Regions from separate parts of the Homo sapiens genome. Here region 1 is linked to region 2. The links come from fine-mapping of genetic effects on plasma protein levels. Region 2 holds a variant in brackets. A gene starts in the other region. All regions are shown on their reverse strands. Region 1 holds the start of LRCH4 (leucine rich repeats and calponin homology domain containing 4). Region 2 overlaps DOCK8 (dedicator of cytokinesis 8).

What was found. A credible set is the group of variants that fine-mapping cannot tell apart. PIP is the posterior inclusion probability: the model's chance that the variant is causal. The UK Biobank Pharma Proteomics Project read protein levels with antibody pairs (Olink). The fine-mapping took linkage between variants from a reference panel, not from the people measured, so its PIPs are less certain.
Region 1: it holds the start of LRCH4, and the variant in region 2 is the best candidate, but not a certain one, in a credible set for the plasma level of the LRCH4 protein (UK Biobank, PIP 0.53).

The regions. Positions count from the first base shown.
Region 1 is chr7:100,583,502-100,598,405 of GRCh38, reverse strand. It overlaps LRCH4 (leucine rich repeats and calponin homology domain containing 4), which reads left to right and starts at 12,277. Exons shown (of 18, transcript NM_002319.5): 1 at 12,277-12,525. The coding sequence starts at 12,306. FBXO24 (F-box protein 24) reads right to left here and starts at 12,078. Exons shown (of 10, transcript NM_033506.3): 1 at 11,742-12,078; 2 at 8,331-8,429; 3 at 8,049-8,232; 4 at 6,504-6,739; 5 at 5,389-5,623; 6 at 3,865-4,023; 7 at 3,183-3,304; 8 at 2,700-2,831. The coding sequence starts at 11,780. PCOLCE-AS1 (PCOLCE antisense RNA 1) reads left to right here. Exons shown (of 9, transcript NR_038910.1): 7 at 5,332-5,581; 8 at 8,075-8,176; 9 at 8,324-9,005. RefSeq lists enhancers at 7,648-8,448, 12,941-13,454, 13,455-13,968, 14,234-14,393, 14,366-14,660 and 1 more and silencers at 11,400-11,519, 12,280-12,709, 12,750-12,799.
Region 2 is chr9:270,166-278,165 of GRCh38, reverse strand. It overlaps DOCK8 (dedicator of cytokinesis 8), which reads right to left. Exons shown (of 48, transcript NM_203447.4): 2 at 6,437-6,539. Among named protein-coding and RNA genes, the nearest start is that of DOCK8-AS1, 58 kb to the right of the region's middle. The variant T/CT (reference allele first, on the strand shown) is at 3,498.

The sequences.
Region 1 (14,904 bases), not on the chromosome of region 2:
TCTCCTGAGCCTGTTAGCGCTTTAATTCTGAAGACACTGATAAGTAATTTATGGTCATTCTAGAAAAATTATGAAACATTGGCAAGCAAAAAATTAATTTTAAAATCATTGGAAATCCCACCATCTACTATTAACATCTTGCTAGATATTCTTCACTGTTGGCTAAACAAACAAATACACATAAATTGTATATTTTTTATTTTTTAGAGATAGGGTCTCAGTGTCACCCAGGCTGGAGTGCAGTGGTGATCACAGCTCACTGCAGCCTTCAACTCCTGGCCTCAAGCAATCCTCCTGTCTCAGCCTCCTGAGTAGTTGGGATTACAGATGTCAGCCACCATGATGGGCAAGTTGTGTATTTTTAAACAAAAAATGGGATGGGGCCAGGTGTGGTGGCTCACACCTGTAATCCCAGCACTTTAGGAGTCTGAGGTGGGAGGATTGCTTAAAGCCATGAGTTCAATATAAGCTTGGGCAACATAGCAAGACCCTGTCTCTAAAAAAAAAAAAAACAAAAAAAACAAAAAAAACAAAAACTTATCTGGGCGTAGTGGCGCATTCCTGTAGTCCTAGCTGCTTGGGAGGTTGAGGCGGGAGGATCTCTTGAGCCCTGGAGTTGAAAGCTGCAGCAAGCTACGATTGTGTCACTGCACTCCAGCTTGGGAAGCAGTGGAGACCATGTCTCAAAAAAGTAATAATAAAAATAAAAAGAGGCTGGGTGCGGTGGCTCACACCTGTAATCCCAGCACTTTGGGAGGCCAAGGTGTGCAGATCACCTGAGGTCAGGAGTTTGAGACCAGCCTGGCCAACATGGTAAAACTCCGTCTCTACTAAAAATACAAAAATTAGCCGGGCATGGTGGTGGGCGCTGTAATCCCATCTTGGCAGGCTGAGGCAGGAGAATCACTTGAACCTGGGAGGCAGAGGTTGCAGTGAGCCGAGATCGCGCCATTGCACTCCAGCCTGGGAGACAGAGCAAGACTCTATCTTGAAAATAAAATAAAAATAAAAATAAAAATAAATGGTACTATGTAAACCATTTCATAAAAGTCTTTTTCACCTAAAAATATGGCATGACTATCTTTTCCATGTCAGTAGTAAATGTATCTTACATTGTCACACCATCAATTAACCCTACCACCCACCCCATTTGGAACTTCCTTCTCATGTGGCTTCTGGGACAGTGTTAGAGGGGTGCACGGCCTGTCTTAGAGGCACCTCTTCATCCCCTGTCTACCACAGGGCCTACTTCTCAGAGTTGCTTTTCAGTCTCTACTTCTGTTTGTTCAACCATGTTCCCAGGTAGAATCTAATTGCCAGCTAGACGTTTCCAATTGAGTGTGGTTTTTGTTTTGTTTTGTTTTGAGACAGAGTCTCTCTCCGTTGCCCAGGCTGGAATGTTGTGGCACGATCTCGGCTCACCGCAACCTCTGCCTCCCAGGCTCAAGCAATTCTCGTGCCTCAGACTCCCGAGTAGCTGGGACTAAAAGCACCCACCACCACACCTGGCTAATTTTTTATTTTTTCTAGAGACAGGGTTTCACCATGTTGTCCAGGCTGATCTCATGCTCCTGGGCTCACGTGATCCACCCACCTTGGTCTCCCAAAGTGCTGGGATTACAGGTGTGAGATATCTTTCTTCCAGAGCCACCTCTGTCTTATACCCCTCTCTTCTACATCTAATCAGTTTTGAGGCCCTATTCATTTTCTTCCCAAATAGCTCCTGTATCCATTCCTTCCCATTCTCGCTGCAGCACCAGGCGCTTGTCTCAAGTGCTGTCATCACTCAACAGCCTCCTGGCGGGCTCCCCTCCTTGGCCTCCTCTGCACAAGGCTCCTGACACATTCTCAGTCACCTCTTGGGGGTTGCCTTCTCCTATTCCAGAACCTGCAGTGACTCTTCCCCAAATCTACACCTCTCTAAGCTTGTGCCCACCTGTACCACCTCATACCTCAGTGATTCCCAAGATGCCTTCTGTGCTTTAGTGAGACCCGTCTTGTCACTGTCCCAGGTATGTGCAAGTTTCGTGCCTATCCCCCTCCTCATCACACAGAATGCCTTCTCTATCCCTACCTAAGTCTTATGTAACCCACGATGCCCTGCTCACATCTTTTTTCTTTTTCTTTGAGACGGAGTCTCGCTCTGTGGCCCAGGCTGGAGTAGGGTGGCACGATCTCAGCTCACTGCAACCTCAGCCTCCCAGGTTCAAGAGAATCTCCTGCCTCAACCTCCTGAGTAGCTGGGATTGCAGGCATGTGCCACCACAGCCAGCTAATTTTTTATATTTTTGGTAGAGACGGGGTTTCACCATGTTGCCCAGGCTGGTCTAGAACTCCTGACCTCAAGTGATCTGTCCACCTCGGCCTCCCAAAGTGTCGGGATTACAGGCGTGAGGCTCTGCACCTGGCCCCTGCTCACATCTTACCTCTTCTAGAAGTCTCTAGCCTGCCCAGGTCACCCACCCTACCCCTTCACTAAATTCCTATTGCATTTACAGTGTGCACTGCACAGAATGGACCTCGTAGTGCCAACCCTGGGTAAGACATGGGGTAGTACCACTGGCATTACATACTGAGTGGCTTAACTTCCCAAAGGAACAGAAATTGGATTCTGTGGAATCTGGAGAAGTGGACAGATCTGGGGGTTAGGGAATTGGAGGAAAGGGGTTGGGATGAGAGTTGCTGGGAAATAGTCTCACCTGTGTGGGTTCCCCTCGGTCCATTTTGTCCCCTGTTCCTAGCTGCCCGTATCTGTTATTTCCTTGCATGAAGATTCGGCCAAATTCATCCACCAGGCCAAGGTGGTTGTAGCCAAGAGCACAGAATAGGATCTAGCGTGCAAGATAGAAAGGGGATAGGGATTCCATTCCCTCCAGAGGAACTCTGAGTTCCAGAGTCTCCAAGCCACTAACCTGCCATCCCCAGCTGATCTCTTTCTATATATATATTTTAGAGATGGGATCTCACTATGTTGCCCAGGCTGGTCTAGAGCTCCTGGGCTCAAGCGATACTCCCTCCTCAGCCTCCCTCCGCACCGAGCCCCCAGCTGATCTCTTTTGGCATACCTCTCCCTGGGGATCCCCTGCCCCTCTGGATCAATAATCTGATTCCTATAATACTTCAGACCTTCCAATCCCTACAGCGCCACCCCTCTGGTTTGCCCCGTCCCTCCAGGAGCCTACCTTGGCAGGCAGTGAGAGAGCAAGCGGCATCTGCTGGTCCAGGGGGTCAAAGGCTTGAAGGGTCCCAAAGAGATCGCGATACACCCCTGGGGTATGCACCTCAAAATACACTCCCCCCTGGTCTGGGGGGTCAGGAGCCCTCAGCTCAGCAGCTTTGGGCACCCATTTCCTAGGGATAAGGCCCCACCTGGGATGAAAGCTACAAGATCCAAGGAGTCTCATACCCACTAGGAATGCATCAACTATGATGCCTGGGAACTGAAAACACATCTTTTGAGACCGAGTCTCCCTCGGTCACCCAGGCTGGAGCGAAGTGGCACGATCTCAGTTCACTGCAACCTCTACCTCCTGGTTCAAGTGATTCTCCTGTCTCGGCCTCTGGTGTAGCTGGGATTACAGGCGCCTGCCATCACACCCAGCTAATTTTTGTATTTTAGTAGAGATGGGGTTTCGCCATGTTGGCCAGGCTGGTCTTGAACTCCTGACCTCAGGTGATTCACCTGCCTCGGTTTCCCAAAGTGATGGGATTACAGGCATGAGTCACCATGCCGGCCCTAAACACATCTTTTCACTAGGATGCCCTCAGGGGTTCACCATGCAGCTGGAGTAAGGGTGAAGGGTGTTGATGTTTAGAGGGTCTAACCAAGGCTGCGGGCTTGAGCCGGGGGGAGGTGGTCCATACCTGTGACGTAGAGGGTGCTGCTCTGGTTGGAAGTCATGCAGGCCACGCGCAGGTGAGGCAGGTAGTGGGACACCTTCCTCAGGGCCAGCTGAACCGTGTAGGAGCGTGGCTGGTCAAGCTGGGTCTCATTCACTACCAAAGAGTAGATCTTTCCTTCCTCTGGGGGTAGGGGAAGCAATTAGTTGGGGAGGGGATTCTCCAATATCCACATAAACATCCCAAGAGACTCCCTAGGCCATATGGGTGACACATTTACTGCCCTAGAGTGGGGCTGAGAAAGAAATAAGGGAAGAGTGACCCCAAGTCCCCCAGACTCCAGTTCCCACCATAAATCAGGGAAGTACTTCAGCATGAGAGATGAGCAGAGAGAAAAATCTAGCAGATTTGTTAGAATCCGATTTGAGTGAGAGGTCTGGGGATTGAGGGCCCTGCCTGGCATTCAGAAGTTTAGAGGTGGTCAAGTGTGGTGGCTCACACCTGTAATCCCAGCACTTTGGGAGGCCAAGGCAGGAGGATCACTTGAGGCAGGGAGTTCGAGACCAGCCTGGGCAACATAGCAAGACCCCATCTCTACCTTGCTCCAAAAAAGAAAAAAATATTTTAAGAAAAAGCCTAAAGGGTCTCAGGCCTGGGGATGTGGTTGAGTATAAAGGACATTGGGAAAGTAGGGAGCAGTTTGGAGTATAGTGAGGTGGTTGGCATGGAAGCTGGGGACATCTGATTTTTTTTTTTTTTTTTTTTTTTGGAGATGGAGTCTCACTCTGTCACCCAGGCTGGAGTGCAGTGGCATAATCTCGGCTCACTGAAACCTCCACCTCCTGGGTTCAAGCGATTCTCCTGCCTCAGGCTCCCAAGTAGCTGGGACTACAGGTCCATGCCACCACGTCCGGCTAATTTTTTTTTTTTTTTTTTTTTGAGACGGAGTCTCGCTCTGTCACCAGGCTGGAGTGCAGTGGCGTGATCTCGGCTCACTGCAACCTCTGCCTCCTGGGTTCAAGGGATTCTCCTGCCTCAGCCTCCCAGGTAGCTTAGACTACAGGCACGCGCCACCACGCTTGGCTAATTTTTGTATTTTTTTTTAGTAGAGTCAGGCAGGGTTTCACCATGTTGGTCTCGATCTCTTGACCTCGTGATCCACCCGCCTTGGCCTCCCAAAAACTGGGATTACAGGTGTGAGCCGCCGCACCCGACCTAATTTTTGTATTTTTTAGTAGAGATGGGGTTTCGCCATGTTGGCCAGGCTGGTCTCAAACTCCAGATCTCAGGTGATCTGCTCACCTCGGCCTCCCAAAGTGCTGGGGTTACAGGTGTGAGCCACCACACCTGGACAGGGCCTTTTATTCATATAAAATATTAAGCAGAATCCTAGACTAGGAGACAGAGAAGGGCAGAGCTGTTTAGATGGAGACTAGGATAAGGTGGCATATGGAACCCAGTCTGAGGGGCCTCCCTCCCCCTCCTCTGCAGCAGGGTCTGAGGAATCTGCAGGAAACAGTTTGCAAAAGCCATTGCTTTGGGCCACACCTGTGAGGAGCAGTAGAGCCCGCTGGGTCTCCTGACCAACCAGCACGATCTGCTTGAAGGTCATTGAGTGGTGGAATGTCATCTTGAAGACCCGCTGCCCACTAGACTGCAGATAGACCTCAACACAGTCACAGGCCCGGCTGCTGGTGGTACCCACCACTTCCTGCGGCTCCCGAGTGGCCAAGACGTAGAGGTATTTACGGTAAACTGTGTCACACCTTGGGTCCGAGGCAAACTGGGGGAAAAGATGAGGGCGTCTGGGATCTAGAGTTTCAAAATGGGATGGGGCTGGGGCAGCTGGATCCTGGGGTGGGAAGTGAAATGCTTGGGTCCAGAGTTGGGAAATGAGCCCTTGATTTCAGGTTCCTATGTGGGAGGGCAGAAGTCATAGGAAAGACACCTCAAGACTGATGGGGGCCTGGGTCCTCAAAAGAGAGGTGGTGATATGGTTAGGCTCTGTGCCCCCACCCAAATCTCATCTCGAATTGTAATACCCAGTGGGAGGTGATTGGCTCACGGGGGCAATTTCCCCCATGTTGTTTTCGTGATAGTGGGTTCTCACGAGGTCTGACGGATTTATAAGGCAGTTTTCCCTGCTCTTGCTTGTGTGCTCTCGCCTGCTGCCATGTAAGACGTGCCTCTTTCCCTTCTGCCATGATTGTAAGTTTCCTGAGGCCTCCCCAGTCATGTGGAACTATGAGTCAATTAAACCTCTTTGCCTTATAAATTACCCGGTCTCAGGTATGTCTTTTTTTTTCGAGACGGAGTCTCCCTCTTGTTGCCCAGGCTGGAGTGCAAGGGTGCGATCTCAGCTCACTGCAGCCTCTGCCTCCCAAGTTCAAGCAATTCTCCTGCCTCAGCCTCCCAAGTAGCTGGAATTATAGGCACCCACCACCACACCCAGCTAATTTTTGTATTTTTAGTAGAGACGGGTTTCGCCATTTGGCCAGGCTGGTCTCGAACTCCTGGTCTCAGCTGATCCGCCTGCCTCAGCCTCCCAAAGTGCTAGGATTACAGGTGTAAGCCACTGCACCCGGCCTCTGGTACGTCTTTATAGCAGTGTGAAAATGGACTAATACAGGTGGGCTCTCAGCTGCCAGGGTTCTGCTACTCACATCCTTGGCTCCACGACACAACACAACATAGCGACAGGCCCGCTTCCACTGCATCTGGCCGAGGGTGGAGACCAGGGCATTTTTGAGGAAGAAGAGGGTCCCCACGTAGTCAAGAATGAAGACGTGATCCTTGGTGGGCAAGAAGCGGCGGTAGCCGTGGGCTAGCAAGGGGGCCACGCTCTTGCTGAGACATCGGCGGCGGCCTCCAAATGCCTGGAAATACAGGCCCTTCGTGTCTGGAGGAAGGAAGGAGATGGAAGGTTCAAGGGATGAGATGACACGAGGGAGATGAGTTGGAGCTTGGGTAGATTTCTTAGACACGCTGGTTTGTAGTTCCTCCCCATCCCCAGGACAGGGGAACAAACAGACCCCTTATGAAGGAGATGTGGAAAATAAGCTTAGATTATACTCGACATGTGAACTTTAGTCTCCACCCCACCTCAGCCCAGGGTCAAACATTTGCTTCTTAGTGAGCAGTTCTTTGGTGCAACCTTGCATCAGTGATGTTGAGGAAAACTCTAAGAATAAAGACACAGAGGCTGCGTGCGGCATCCACCCCCCTCACCCTGAGCCCCTCCTCCCATCCTCACAGCTCAGTGAATTTTTGCACGCCTGTAATCCCAGCACTTTGGGAGCCCAGGAGTTTGAGACCAGCCTGGGCAACGTGGCAAAACCCCATCTCTACTAAAAATACAAAAATTATCCGGGTGTGGTGGCGGGAGCCTGTAATCCCAGCTACTCAGGAGGCTGAGGCACGAGAATACTTGAACCCGGGAGGTGGAGGTTGCATTGAGCCAAGATTGCACCACTGTGCTCCAGCCTGGGTGACAGAGCAAGACCCTGTCTCAAAAAAAAAAAAAAAAAAAAAAAATCAAAGAAAAAGAAAGAAAAGAGAAGAGACAGAAACAGGAGTGAAAAGGAATGATTGATGAAGGCCGGTCATCCTCCCTCACCCCTAGCTTTGGATCTGTTTTCTGGGTCCCCCTTCTCTTTTAATCTCCCAGTGAGTGTAAGAAGTACACCCTGGGGGATCCCTGGAGGGGAAGAGGGTTTATGGCATGGTTCTCAGGCTAGGGGTGATTTTGTCCTTCAAGGGCATTGGTTGTCACAATTAAGGGGGATGCTGCTGGCCATCTGGTGGGTGGAGGCCAGGGTTGCTGCTTAAACATCCCACCATGCAGAGGACAGCTCCCCACATCAAGGAATTATTTTGCCCAGAATATCAACAGTGAGTTCAGAAGCCTTGGGTTAGAGGAGGGAAAACTCCAGGTTTGGGGAGTGAGGGATGCCTCTAGGGAAAAAGCGGGAAGTGTCTGTGTACAGAGGGAGACTTGGCAGGGAGGCCGCTAACGGGGGCTGTGGGTGGATTCCGAAGACTTGGAGGAAGTACTCAAGGGAGAATGTTTGAACTGGACCCGTTTCTTCCGGAGAAAGGGGCCCTGGAAGCACTGTTGGGAGTGTGGGGGTCATCAGGGGACTTTAGAGAGCAGGAAGGCTAAGGCGGGACAGAGGCAAGGAGAACGGGAGGTTCTGGGGAAGGTGTACAGTTCAGAATGGCAGCTCTCTTCCAGGGCCGGACTCCAGAACCCTGATCTTGGAGGCGCGGACTGAGTCTGCGACAGATGCGTCTCCACACGCCTTCCCCATCGCACACTTCGTGGAAGTAGCGGCAGGTCTGGCCGAGGGCAACAAGGTCTCTGACTGGGAGGAATGAGATGATATGCTCCACCTGGGAGGGAGGAGGGAAGAAGCGGGGAGTCTTTGGTGGCCCCTCGGTGATCTGGCCCCCAATCCTATTATTCTCAATCCCCCTCCCCAAGGACTCACCAGCTCTGGGGGGAACAACTGGATGGAAATCGGATTTCCTTTCCCCCTCTTCTCTTCAACCCCAAGCTCCGAGCCACAAGAAGGGCAGCTTCTCTTCACCTACCCAAGAAGGGGTGCATAGGGTCCCATGAGGGTCCCACATCCTTTTTTCCCTTCTCTCCGCCTACCTTGGGGCTCATCTGACTCTAGCTGGGCACAGTTATTTCCTCCCCTCTCTCTCCAGACCCATCCCTAACTTCTCCAAATAACTCCTCCCGATCTCCTGCGGCCAATCCCCCTCACCCGGAGCCCCTCCTCCCGTCCACACAGCCTGGTGAATTTTTGCAGCTTCCGTCTCTGGCTTCCCCTGACCATCCTGATTGCCCCCTCCCTGCTCCTGCCCTCCTGTCTCCTAGGCCCTTGGCCCCCCCGTTCCTGCTGGCTTTCCCACACCATGTCCCCAGCCTAGGCTTGGGGGACCTCTGAGGCCCCTCTGCCTCCTAGGCCCCTCCCCCATGGAGTCTGGGGCTAACAAACCTCTCTGTGACCTCACTGTTTGGCCACTGTGACCTGTTCCCTTTAATCTTGCCCAGGACCCATCTCTTAGACAGCTCCTGGGTTCTAGCTCAGTTCTAGCCATCACATGGCTCAAGGGATATGCATTTTACTGGAGAAATAAAGTGTGAATTACTGGTAGGTGACATCTTTATTTCAGGGAGCAGGAGGAAGTTTTCCTATTTGAGGCCCTTTTAGCACTAACTCTGTAGAGAAACACTAGTGAATTCCTCACATTTCAGCAGGCCAAGGCCTCTAGGGATTGGTAGCTCAAGAGTATAGACTCAAAAAACTATAAACTCAGTTTGACAGGTGAGATGGAGAGGTGACTGTGCTAATAATCGTTTAGCTCACAAATGATTCAGCAAACTCTTTAGACTTGTGAAAAAACACATCCAAAAGGAGACTGCAGCCTGGTGCCGGTGGCTAACGCCCGAAATCCCAGCACTTTTGGGTGGCCATGGTGCAAGGATGGCTTGAGGCCATGGGTTTCAAGACCAGCCTGGTCAACATAGACCCTGCGTCTATTAAAAAAAAAAAAAAACTTAAAAATTACCCAGGCGTGGTGATGCACCCCTGTAGTCCCAGCTACACAGGAGGCTGAGGCAGGAGGATTGCTTGAGCCCAGTTTGAGGCAGCAGTGAGCTATGATCGTGCCACTGCACTCCAGCCCGGGCGAGAATGATACCCAGTTTCAAAAAAAACAAACAAAAAAGAAGACTGCTTTTGCTTTCCTGAGGGACAGTAACATCATTGCATGTATAAAGGACAACCTATTAAGGTGGGAGAAAGGGATGGATTTCCTCTGAAAGCTTAGGATTTCTCCCAGGGTCTCTGATATTAGCTTTGTCTTATGTGGGGTGACATTTATCAGGAGAAACAGCAGGGGTCAGGGTTGTGTCTGTCCCACTCAGGCCAGATCTACACCAATAAATCCAAGGAGTGGCTGGCTCTTGCAGGGGCTCAAAGGAGTCCCATCCTGCCAGACCACCAGCCCTCACCACACAGTGTCACAGATCCGTTCATTGACTGCACCAGACTGACCACCCAAATTCCCTTATGTATGGTGCCTAGCCATGGCTAGGCTGGGATGCCTGAGATGGAATTTTAATTCTTCAGCAACTACTCAGGAATATCAACCTCTGAGATGTGAACTAAGGAGAAAGCAACTTCAGTGACTTATTTCTGGGCAACCTACCACATAGGGAGGGGACTGCATTAGGGACTCATGCCACTTAGAAAGGAAGATCTCCAAGTAGACAGAAAGGTATTTTCCATTCCTCTTGCATTTGGGTCCCCTTTATCCACTCCATTTCACCCCAGGAGGCAAACGAGAGGTTGTGAATAGAAAAAGTCCACTGTGGGCCAGGCTTTGTGGCTCACGCTTATAATCCCAGCACTTCGGGAGGCCGAGGTGGGAGCATTGCTTGAGCCCAGGAGTTTGAGATCAGCCTGGGCAACATAGTAGGACCCTGTCTCTACAAAAAATACAATTAGCTGGCATGGTGGTGCGTGCTTGTAGTCCCAGTTACTCGGGAGGCTGAGGTGGGAGGTTGAGGCTGCAGTGAGCTGCGATCAAGCCACTGCACTCCAGCCTGGGCAACAGAGCGACTCTGTCTCAAAAGAAAGAAAAAGTCCACTGTGGGCCGGGTGCGGTGGCTCACGCCTGTGATCCCAGTACTTTGGGAGGCAGAGGCAGGATCGCTTGAGGTCAAAAGTTTGAGACCAGCCTGGGCAACATAGCAAAACCCCATCTCTACAAAAATTGAAAATAAATTAGCCAGGTGCAGTGGTGCCGCCCGTGGTCCCAGCTACTTGGGAGGCTGAGGCAGGAGGATCACTTGAGCCCAGGCATTCAAGGCTGCAGTGAGCCATGACTGCACCACTGCACTCCAGCCTGGGCGACAGAATCAGACCTTCTTAAAAAAAAAAAAAAAAAGGCCGGGCGCGGTGGCTCACGCCTGTAATGCCAGCACTTTGGGAGGCCGAGGAGGGCATATTGCCTGAGCTCCTGAGTTTGCGACCAGCCTGGGCAACACGGTGAAACCCCGTCTCTACTAAAATACAAAAAATTAGCCGGGTGTGGTGGCGGGCGCCTGTAGTCCCAGCTACTCGGGAGGCTGAGGCAGGAGAATTGCTTGAACCCGGACAGTGGAGGTTGCTGTGAGCCGAGATCGCGCCACTGCACTCCAGCCTGGGCGACTGAGCGAGACTCCATCTCAAAAAATAAAAAAATAAAAAGAGGAAGGGAACGGAAGGGAGAGGGAGGGAGGGAGGAAGAGAGGAAGGGAGTGAAAACATCCACTGTGAAAACTGAGGGAGCGGGAAAGGGCTGTGCGTGGAGGATCCAGAGACCTGGTTTCTAGAGCAAGCCAGCTGTCAGGAACTTGCTGTTCGCTCTTGCTAACGCATCAACTTCCCTCTGCCTCAGTTTCTGCATTCGTAGCACCAAGGGCGTGTTCTAGGCGGTGAGATCCTTTCTAAGCCTCTAAAACCCCGTGGTCTGGTCCCCTCTCCATTCCTGTCCAGGGGAGCTCCTCGGGTGAGACGGCAGACCGTGCAACGCTGCACCTACACCCTCCCTCCTCGAGCTGGGCATCTCCAGGCTCTGGGAAGCCCCCCGCCCGCCCCCAGCCCGGGGGTCCCGAGACCCCTGCCAGAGGCTTCACAGTCGGAGGTCCCCCCGCTGCCCCTTCAGCTGCGACAACCGCCAGTGCACTGGCCTCAAGCAGTCGCCCGAATCCCCTCAAGCCCTGGACGCCGGCTAGCCCCCTAACACGTCCAGCTCGCACTCGCCACTGCAGCGGCGAACTGCGTTCCCGGCCGGCCAGGGGCTCCGCGTTCATTCTTAACCTCAGTCTTAAAGTTCTAGCTCACCCGCCTCCTCCTTAGCAAAGGGACCGCCTTCTCGCCCATGCTATTGGTAGGTAGAGCCGTCCCTCAGAGAAGAGGCAGGTCCAGATTCCCTTCGGAGGCTCTAATTGGCCTTCTTGACAGTCACTCGCCTGTATCTGGCTTACGATTGGTCTTTGGGGGACGAGGACTAGGCACCCCCTGCTTGCGGTCCCTCGGCCCGTTTTCCTGCTAGTGGAGTGCCGGTGTCCCCTCCTCTTGGTTGGACCTGATTGGCTCCACCTCCCGATCTGAGCATTGTGATTGGGTGCAGCTGCGCTGGGCGGGACGGCCTGGAGCGTCGGCCGTTGGCGAGCGCTCTATCCTTGTTCCCCTCCCTTCTCTCGTCAGACTCCGGCGCCGGAGCTCCACCCCCACTGACGGGTTCTGATTGGCCGCTTCTGACGCGTCTCGGGGCCACGATTGGTCCGTCCGGTCCCGGACACCGCTCCCTCCCCCTTGAGGCAACTACGGCGGCTCCAAGGAGGGGGTGGGGGAAGGAGGGACGGCCGGTCCCGTCAGTCAGGCAGCGGGAGCCGCCGGGAGCGGATGGCGGCGGCCGTAGCGGCTCCACTCGCCGCCGGGGGTGAGGAGGCGGCAGCCACGACCTCCGTGCCCGGGTCTCCAGGTCTGCCGGGGAGACGCAGTGCAGAGCGGGCCCTAGAGGAGGCCGTGGCCACCGGGACCCTGAACCTGTCTAACCGGCGCTTGAAGCACTTCCCCCGGGGCGCGGCCCGTAGCTACGACCTGTCAGACATCACCCAGGCTGGTGAGTGCAGCCGGGCCCCGGGCCCAACCGGGTCCCTCATTTGCATAGCCCCACCCCGGGCCCCGCCCGGCCCGGGAGTCGGGCCCGCCCCTTCACCTGGCGGCCAGGGTTGCTGCCCCTCCTGATTGCCCTAAACCTGCAGCCATCCTCTCCCATCTTTGAGAACCCCCTAGACAATGAACGTGCTTCTCGTTTGCACAGAACGCCCTGCGCCTCCGAGCGTTGGGAGAGATTCCTCCTTTCTCTTTATTTGCATATCTGCGCACCTGTAGGATGGTCCCGCCCCTCACCTGGTTGGCTTATTTACATGATCTCTTAACCTCAGCTCCAATCGGTCTATGAAGCAGTCCCCACGAGCTCCTCTAATAACTGCTTTCTCTCCCTCTTCATCTACACCTCTTAACCCCCGTCCCACCGAGATCCGAGCAGCCCCGGGCACCCCCTTCCCAGTGACTGGCCCCTAAGCCCGAGGTTTCTGCTTTCTGTGCCGCAACCCCGCCCCCTAAGGTCCTGGCCCTCTCCACTGTCCACGCAGCTCTCCAGCCTATGGGAAAGAAACAAATCTCTACCTCCCCTCACTCTTTTCTCCCTGAGCTCTTCCGCCTATTATCCCCAACCGGCTTATCTGAGATTCCTCCTCCTCCTTCCTAAGCCTGTGAGGTCACTGTGGAGCCTGTGACCTCATAGGGATCTTAGAATTCCCATTTCAGTTTCTGCTTTCCCCCGGGGGAGGGACTTGAGGCCGTTGCTGGAGGGAAGGAAATCTTATCTCCTAGCTGGGAGTGCTGGCCAGCTAGAGACTGTCCTTCCACGCCTCCACCCGCAGGATCTGTCCAACCATGCACCCTCCACCCTGGTGTCTGTGGATGGTAGGGGGTGGGGGACTTAACTGTGACAGGTGAGTCAAGCCTCAGCTACTCAGGAGGCAGCCTATGACCTTGGGCCGGCAGCTGGGGGTGGGGATCAGGATCAGGGAGGAGGACTGCATTCCCGAAGCCTCACCCCAGCCCAGGCCTCTTCCTCCTCTCATCTGCACGGTGGGGGACCAGAGCTGGAGGATAGTGCTTACTTCTCCCTAAGCAGGTGCCTGCTCACCTGGGAACACTCAGGCCGGCACTGGCACACATCCTCTTCCCTCTTCTGGGGAGAACCAGTCGAAACCTCCCCACTGATCTCGCCTGCTCTGCAACACTTGAGATGGGGAATGAGTGAGCTCCAGGAGCCATTCCTGCCCCTTACAGCCCTGTTCCCTCCCACCCCCACCTAACCCCACACTCCAGATTGACCTCAGCAGCTGTGTGACACTCACTGTCTGTTCCCTTCCCCTCCCCCTTGGTTGTTTTTTGACAAAGACCAAATGTTATTCTTTACTTCCTTAGGCTGTCTCTCCCTGTGTGGACTCTTGGGGAAAACTACCCGGAGCTCCCCGGCCCCTCCCAGCTCCCGCCCCCGGCCCCCTCCTCCCCCAGCATTCCGGCTCAGGGTGCAGCCGTGCTCCTGTGAGCTTGGGGGGGGGTCGGAAATCCCAGCTTCCCAAGAACCCTCCTCTGCCCCACTCTCTACACAGGGCCCAGGTTCTAGGCCAAGTGGGGTCCCTCTTGTCCAGAATTCTCTCCTCTGTCCCCTCTCCGCAAGCAGGGACAGAAAGGGGAAGTGACAAAAACATACAGTTGCCCATACCCTGCCCTCCATCTCTCCTCGCCCTCCAAGCAGACGAAAAGCATCAGTGCCTTGCTGCCCGGACTGCCTTGAGCCTTCCCCTCCCGTCTCCCATCTCTTTCTGAGTGTCTTCGCTGCGTGTCGCCTAGTCTTGGGTCCCTGATCTCCCTTGGACTAGGCTCCCTGGGGTGATAGTAGGAAGAATCCTGAGGTGGCGGGGAGGGGCCATCTTGCAAAGGAGAAGTGCAGCTCATTCTCTCCCAGACCACATCCTGTGCCCCCAGTGCCCTGCCTCCTGCCTGAGCTCCCTTCCGCTCCTAGCTTTTGTCCCCGCCACCGCCTACCCCATCAGAACTCTGAGAACTCGGTCTCCACCCCCTTCGTCCACATGCACACACACAAACACATTTGCAGAGAAAGCGGGCAGGTGGAGGCGAGGCTGGGAGGGGCAAATGCCATCCCCCCACCCTCTCCAGAACGGTCATCTCTGAGGCCAGGGCTTCTGTCTGTGCACCAGGGCTGGGCAGAGAGGAAGAGAAAGGGGTCCCGGGGCATCAGGCTGTCATCCACCCTGGTAAACACGGGGCCTACCAGAGCCAGAACCTGACAGATTGTTTCTACTTCATTTCCTGTCACAAGACTCATTTCCTTGGGGGATATACCCGGCTTCTCTCCTCTGCTTGCTTTTGCTGGCCTGCCCTTCCCTGAGAAGGGCCCTTG
Region 2 (8,000 bases):
ATAAAGAAACGTCTGCTCTGTGTGCAGAATGCCTGCCACTCTTTCCTTTTATCTTCCATTGTGAATTTGCAAGAAAATTATCTTGAGATCTTCATTTTCCGTCATGTCCCTTCCAGTGCAATCAGTGAAACCTAAGAATAGCCCAACCCCTTGAAAGATGAAGTGCAAAAGAACAACAGAATCAGAAGAATAAAAGAGGACCATATTTATCAGGCAATTAACCATTTAAGTCATCATGAGCTGTAAAATAAAAAAGGCTGCTTTATTGCACAGAAGCCTATACACATAACAAAAATAAATGCCTTCTAAGCTATGAGACTTTTTTTTTAAATAAATGTTACATATACAAACATGCCATGTAACCATGGTGTTTGGTACATATCCAGGATGTGGCTTTTTACATCCTTTTCTTCAGTCAGAGCCGTTATGGTCCAGCTAATTCATTCCATTTCACTTCAAAATTGTTCTATTCTCACTTTTAAAAATAGGATTTTTCCCTCCATAAAATATGTAGCTTAAGGTTATTAACCACCTACACAGTCTCAAATCCTCCTTACTTCCTTAGGGCATAGATCCTAACTCTTTCTTCTCTTGTCCTCTCGCCTCCCCTCCCCTCCTTTCCTCTGAGACAGGGTCTCCTAACTCTTCTCTTGTATGTTACTCTTCTTTTGTATGTCTTCTCTTCTCTTCTCTTCTCTTCTCTTCTCTCTTTCTCTTCTCCTCTCTTCTCTTTTCTTTTCTGAGACAGGGTCTCACTCTGTTGCCCAGGCTAGAGTACTGTGGCTCAATCATGGCTCACTGCAGCCTCCAACTCCTGAGTTCAAGTGATCCTTCTGCCTCAGCCTCGCAAGTAGCTGGGACTAAAGGCATGTGCCACCATGCCTGGCTAATTTTTCTTTTTAACTTTGTTGTAGAGATGAGTTCTCACTATGTTGCCTAGGCTGGCCTCGAACTCTTGGCTTCAAGCTATCCTCCTGCCTCTGCCTCCCAAATTGTTGGGATTACATACAGCCATGAGCCATTGTGCCTGGCTTCTACTTTGAACAATCAGAAAATAGGCCGGGTGTAATGACTCATACCTGTAATCCCAGCACTTTGGGAGGCCAAGGCAGGCAGATCACTGAAGCTCAGGAGTTCAAGACCAGCCTGGACAACATGGAGAAACTCCGTCTCTACAAAAAAAATACAAAAATTAGCCAGGCGCAATGGTGCGCCTGTGGTCCCAGTTACTTGGGAGGCTGAGGCAGGAGAATCGCTTGAGCCTGGGAGGCGGAGGTTGTAGTGAGCCAAGATTGTACCACTGCACTCCAGCCTGGGCGACAGAGCAAGGCCCTGTCTCTAAATAAATAAATAAATAAATGAAAAGACAATAGTATATTACAGTTTCATTTTAACAGAGGTACTGATTATAGACTTGTTTGCCTGAATAGGTGGCTGGCACCAGAGGGTCTCTGGTTAATCTATTCACACAGCTGTGGCAATAGAGAATGCCAAAGCCAATAAGTGAGTCTACACACAGGGTTATTTACTAGCCACAGCTGCCTTCTAGCCCTGGTCACAAAGGATTTTGGTAGGAGTGTCAAATAGACCTGGGACAAGTTTATCATCACATCTAGAAAACCAACTTCAAATGATGGATCCCCTTCATACTAAAAAATGCAAAATTTGAAAATATTTTATCTACTTAGAAAATGTTTATACACATAGTCATCAGACCTGATATTTATAGTTTTTAAAAACCCCAATAAAACAAAAAGAAAAATCAACATCAAACATACACCCTTCCTCTCATCTGATTTATCAGATTTATGACAGAAACCACTGTATTTTCTAAGGATATATCTGTAGGGTTAGTAAGTGGTCTTTGCTTACTACACCTTCTGAAATTCAAAGCACACAGGGCAAAATAAGTGTTACCTTTCTTTATATATTCCCCCCATTTGGAATACGTCTACCTTTAAAGTTTTTTTAAATGGGCCGAGCGCAGTGGCTCAAGCCTGTAATCCCAGCACTTTGGGAGGCCGAGGCGGGCGGATCACCTGAGGTCAGAAGTTCAAGACCAGCCTGGCCAACATGGCGAAACCCCGTCTTTACTAAAAATACAAAAATTAGCCAGACATGGCGGCAGCTGCCTGTAATCCCAGCTACTCAGGATGCTAAGTCAGGAGAATCACTTGAACGCAGGAGGCAGAGGTTGCAGAGAGCAGAAATCACATCACTGCACTCCAGCCTGGGTGACAGAGGGAAATTCCATTACAAAAAAAAAAAGTAAAACTAGGCCGGGCCCAGTGGCTCATGCCTGTAATCCCAGCACTTTGGGAGGCCGAGGTGGGTGGATCACTTGAGGTCAGGAGTTTGTGACCAGCCTGGCCAACATGGTGAAACCCTGTCTCTACTAAAAGTACAAAAATTAGCCAGTTGTGGTGGTGCACGCCTGTATTCCTAGCTACTGGGGAGGCTGAGGCAGGAGAATAGCTTGGACCTGGGAGGCAGGAGTTGCAGTGAGCCAAGATTGCGCCACTGCACTCCAGCCTGGGTGACAGAGCGAGACTCCATCTCAAAAAATACATTAAAATTTTAAATAAATAAATAACAGAGCTGTTTAAATGATTCTCAACCTGGGCTTCAAGTTAAAGTCCCCAGGGAACTTTAAAATACTGATGCTTGGTCCCCACCCCCAGGAATTCTGATTGAATTGTCCCTAGATAATTTTAATGTCCAGTCAGGGCTGAGAACCCTTACTCTAAGTCTTCTCAGCCTTCTCAATCAAGCCTTTGCCTCCTATCACATCATGTATCCTTTTCTCTTCTAAACACCTGCCACTTTTGAAGCCAGTATATTCTACATTACCTGTTCTCCCAAATGGATCATAAAGCCCTTCAGAGCTGAAGTCACCTTTTATTCATCATCTTCTTTTAATCTCCCACAGTGTCTCCATAGTGCCAAATCGTAAGAGAGCAATACTAGCCAATATATACAAAGGACCCATTATATAATTCTATATTCCCTACTAGGGACAGCATTATTATGCCAATTTTACAAATGAAGAAACTGAAGTCTTCAGAGAGATTAAGTGGCTTGTCACAAATTACATGACTAATAAATGACAACTGTACCTCATCCCAGATTCACCTGACTCCAAGCTCTTCACTCTTGCAAAACAGCAGCAACAACAAAGACGTGTAAATGATTAGGTTCTAAATAACTTGACTTCAATTAAATGCTTTTTAAAATTAAACAATCATTTGTATCAGCAAGTGGGCCATTGAAATGGTGGTTGTAAAAATAAAGGTAAGAGAAACGAAGGTCAGAACGCACTTGGTCTTATTTTTCAATTAGCCAAAATAATGCAACGAAAACCTACGGCTTCTCATTTTAAGGAAAGTTTTCTAAAACAGCTTTAGGTTGAGAGTCTTTAGATGATAAACTACTCCTTTGCCTTCCTAGAAATGAATCTTACCGACATGTTCCATTATCTTTCCATGAAAAGAAATTTT[T/CT]TTTTAAAGGTAAAAGGAAATCACCACATAAGTTGATGATTTCTTTTGGGGAACCTTCATTCGGGACGATGACTCAAGGGGAAGAACAGCCACTTCATTCTGACATTACAACACGATACCAGGTAAACATTATGGAGATGGATTTCCTAAGCAGACTATTCATCTAAAAAAAAAAAAAGAAAAGAAAGAAAAGAAAAAAAAAAGAATTCAATCCTCTGGGCTTCCACATGCCTCCGTTCTCCAGGTAGAAGGAACAAGAGCCATATACTGAAGTTGAAGTCAAGAGATGGGAAAAGAGATTCAGAAAAGTAAAGCGGAATAACTGGGAGTAATATATTCTAAAGGATATTCACATGCAAATAGAACCAAGACTAAATGATGACAGGTAGGAACATGTGATTCTTGCATAATTTAACAATTTTACTTATTGTTGCTGGTTTCTTGATATCTTAGAAAATGGACAGCTAAGCCACATGTTAACGTCACTACCCGGCTAAGGTAGTAATTCATCAAAATTCACTTTCATCAAAACTTACTGAGGAGGCAGCAAACTTACCAAACGAATGCTTACAGATATTAAGCATTATTTTCCTTTGTAACTTTACATAAAATAATTTCTCCTGAAAGAAAATTTAAGGCTGTGGCATTAAAGTAAAAGCTGGTGGCCGGGCATGGTGGCTCATGCTCGTAATCCCAGCACTTTGGGAGGCCTAGGCGGGCGGATCACCTGAGGTCAGGAGTTAGAGACCAGCCCTACCAACATGGAGAAACCCCGTCTCTACTCAAAATACAAAATTAGCCAGATGTGATGGTGCATGCCTGTAATCCCAGCTACTCGGGAGGCTGAGGCAGGAGAATTGCTTGAACTACAGGAGAATTGCTTGAACTAGGAGGCAGAGGTTGCGATGAGCCGAGATGGTGCCATTGCACTCCAGCCTGCGTGACAAGAGCTAAACTCCATCTCAAAAAAAAAAAAAAAAGAGTAAAAGCTGGTATGGAGAGAAAGGGTTAAAGCCTGTTAGCTAAACTTCCTTAACGTCTCTTAGGAGTGATGTCCACACTACTTCCCAAGACAACTACTGCAGAAAGCTGCAGCCTTCATTTACTTTTTAAAAAAGCAAAGCACTAAACCCTCTACCTTGTTTAAAATTTAAAAGTGTATCCAATCTATTTTAAACTAAATTTTGCATGTTTTGGAATACAACTTCAGTCAATTTAAAAAAATTTTTTTGATTTTTCAATTAAATATATATTAGCACAAATTAAACCAATAAGCATATCTAATTTATCTTGGTGTAAAGCTTATCTAATATACCTGAAAATGGACACAATATGCACTTGACATGCCTTTATTATACTCTGCAATTCTGAAACACAGGAAAAGTACAAATAAAAAGGCCAGTCTAGCAAGCCACTGAAGTCATAAGTAGATTTTCTGAAAAAATGGCATGGAAAGTTACCTCCTGCAGTAAAAGATGCTATAGGTTTTTCGTACTACTATTTCATTAATGACGCAACACACAAATTATCCTTCTGAAATAACCAGAAATCACTCCAGTAAAACATACCTTTGAAAGATTCACAGTTACACGGCGCGTAAATTGTTACAGGAGACAAAATGGCGGTTACCGGAAACTGAGCGGAAGGTTACAAAATTTCTAAGGCAGAAGTGGTTTCGAAGTAATAAGTAGAAACAAAAAGTAACCTAACCTCTTCAAGATAAGCAGCAGAACCAGCAAGAGTGCTGCTGTGCTGTGTGAGGAAGTGAGTACAGGAGGGCTGGAGCTCTCTCACAGAGGAAGTGAATATTCACTGCTGGTTTTACAAACCATCTCATTTGTCAGATTTATCTCACTTGGCACACATCTGGCATTTAGTGCTCAAATAATATAACACATATAGGCACACTCAACAATTGGCATTGATATAAAAATGTAGGCAATCTTCAATTTAAGAGGAAATGTGTTTTAAAAATGAAGGTTTAGGGCCAGGTGCAGTGGCTCACTGTAATCCCAGCACTTTGGGAGGCTGAGGCAGGAGGATCGCTTGAGCCCAGGAGTTCAAGACCAGCCTGGGCAACATAGCGAGACCCCTGTCTCTACAAAAAGTACAAAAATTAGCCAGGTGTGGTGGCATGCGCCTGTAGTCCCGGCTACTTGGGAGGATGAGGTGGGAGGAGAATCATCTGATCCTGGGAGGTTGAGGTTGCAGTGAGCTGAGATCACACCTCTGTACTCCAGGCTGGGTGACAGACTGACACCCTGTCTCAAAAAAAGAAGGTTTGTACATACTGTAACAGGATATGAAGCTCCAGATAGAGCAAAATTATGGTGACAGAAGTGAGTCAGAGATTGCGTGAGTTGGAGGGTGTGGCCTGGGGAGAGGAGATTGTAAAAGCGCGCTGGGGAACGCTTTAGGATAAAAGAAGTGTTCTATATCTTGACTGAGGAAAGGTTAAGTGACTCTAAGTTGCCCAAGTTCACCAAATTGTACACCTAAAATGTGTGAATTTTATTATATGTAAATTATACTAGCAAGAAAATTATTTTACAAAAAGGAGGTCTGTAACTTGGCATTTCAGATTTTGGAATATGCTTTTCCAAAAAAATGCATACTACAAATGGTGGTAAGTTTTTGGGCTAGCCCTTCTCCCCCAAATATGAACCATAATTTGGATGAGACTGAGTCACCTGGAAGCCCACCTAGTCTAGAGACATCAAAACCACAGCTCCCAGAGGTTCTATTATGTACCCTAAGTACCGGTTGGCAGAGAGAGAGAGGGATATTGTCTGATGTCCAGACACAGTCACAGAGTTAGGATCTGGTGACTGGAGAATGTGAGGTGATGGTAGGAAGATCTAAGGAACAGGAGGCAAACACATACCCTGGGCACTTTTGCACTTGACCAATCGCTAAGTAAACCTGGAACTCATACTTACTAGTTGAAGAGAGGGGAAGCCAGAGGTACTTATGCTCTGTCGATGGTACTGGCCAAGGTTTGGTGGGAGAGTAAACTGTTTCCTTATTTCCGCTGAAGAATACCTTGGATTAAAATAGAAAAATCTAAATGAAATGATTATTTTAGGAAATCATCACAATTTTAGATGCAATCTTTGATATCATGTTATAAAACGTAGGCCTTGGCTGGGCAATGAGCAGAACTGACTAAGATACCTTTTCAGTGGCCTGTTAGTGGACATCGTAGTTTTTGTCAGATAATACATACCCTTGAGAAGTTCACAGAGGCCATGATGCCTGCAGTCAGGTCCTGCCCAATACTGGAAGGATGATGACAGAAGGAGGACTTTGAGGCCCAAGAAAAAGATCCAGGGCATTTGACTCCTTCTCCCCCAGCCATTCAGAGTTTTCTCTATGTGAGGATGTCTGGTATCTGACTAGAATCCTTTAAATCCTGAGCTGCCATTTTGATCCAGCCATTCTCATTTCAAGCAGCTGAACCCTTTTGGCTGACTGGTTGCTACAACAGAGAACACCAGAGAACTGTTGTATGAATACTTCTACCTCCCTGTAGGCACCTTCGATGCTACAGGAATTCCCAATGATTGTATTTTTTCCCAACTGCTCCTAGTTCAGTGATCCTTTGCATCACCCATGTGGACAATGCTCAGCCAACACTTTAGGGAGCCATACACATGAGAGGAAATTGTTCCCCACTGTCTACTCACACCTGCTGGCATGTGACTGCTGGCCAGTGATACCCCAGCTTACAAAAAGGTTGACTTCTGAGCACTTATCTGTTAGCCATTTGTTTGGAACTCAGAGCACGTTTTCTCATTACATCATTGTGTTGGTGGTTGGATTCTCAGGCTAGTTCACAAAAGTGTATTTAAACCACAATGAGGCCAAAACATACAATACCAATACCACTACTGAATATAATTAGAAACTAACAGAGATTACTGAGGATCAAATGAGGTCACATATTTTAAACATGCTTTGTATCCAACAAGGGTATATATAAATTTTTAAACATTGTAACTTTAGATGTAATACTTAAATATTACAAATGAAGCGTATTATGTTTTCTCTGTGAAAACGTGTGCTAGGGCATACTTATTAACTACCCAGCATGATGAGGTTTCCTACATGGTTTGCTTTGCTCCCGACCTTGGCAATGAGTTACACCTAGAAAGGCAGGAAACTGGGCTCTTGTCCCAACTTTGGCATCTATTCTCCCTCAGGAGCACCCCAGTTTCCTTTCAAGATGCCAACACTCATGCTGTGCACTGTCTAGGCAGAAACACAAATCAAAAGAGTGGGCACATAACTCACGGCAGGACAAGTGTCTCTCTTTCCCAGGATTCTGAATGACAAATGGAGAGAAGATTGGAAGAATAAGACTGGAGCACCTTCATCCTAGTGGTGGCCCGTTACATGATGAGGCAAGGAAGTGTGAAACCCCAGAGGAAGCTGTAGCTGCAAGCATACATTTTGCTCCTTAATTTTCTACAGCGTTTTCTTTATTTAATTTTTTAAAAGTAT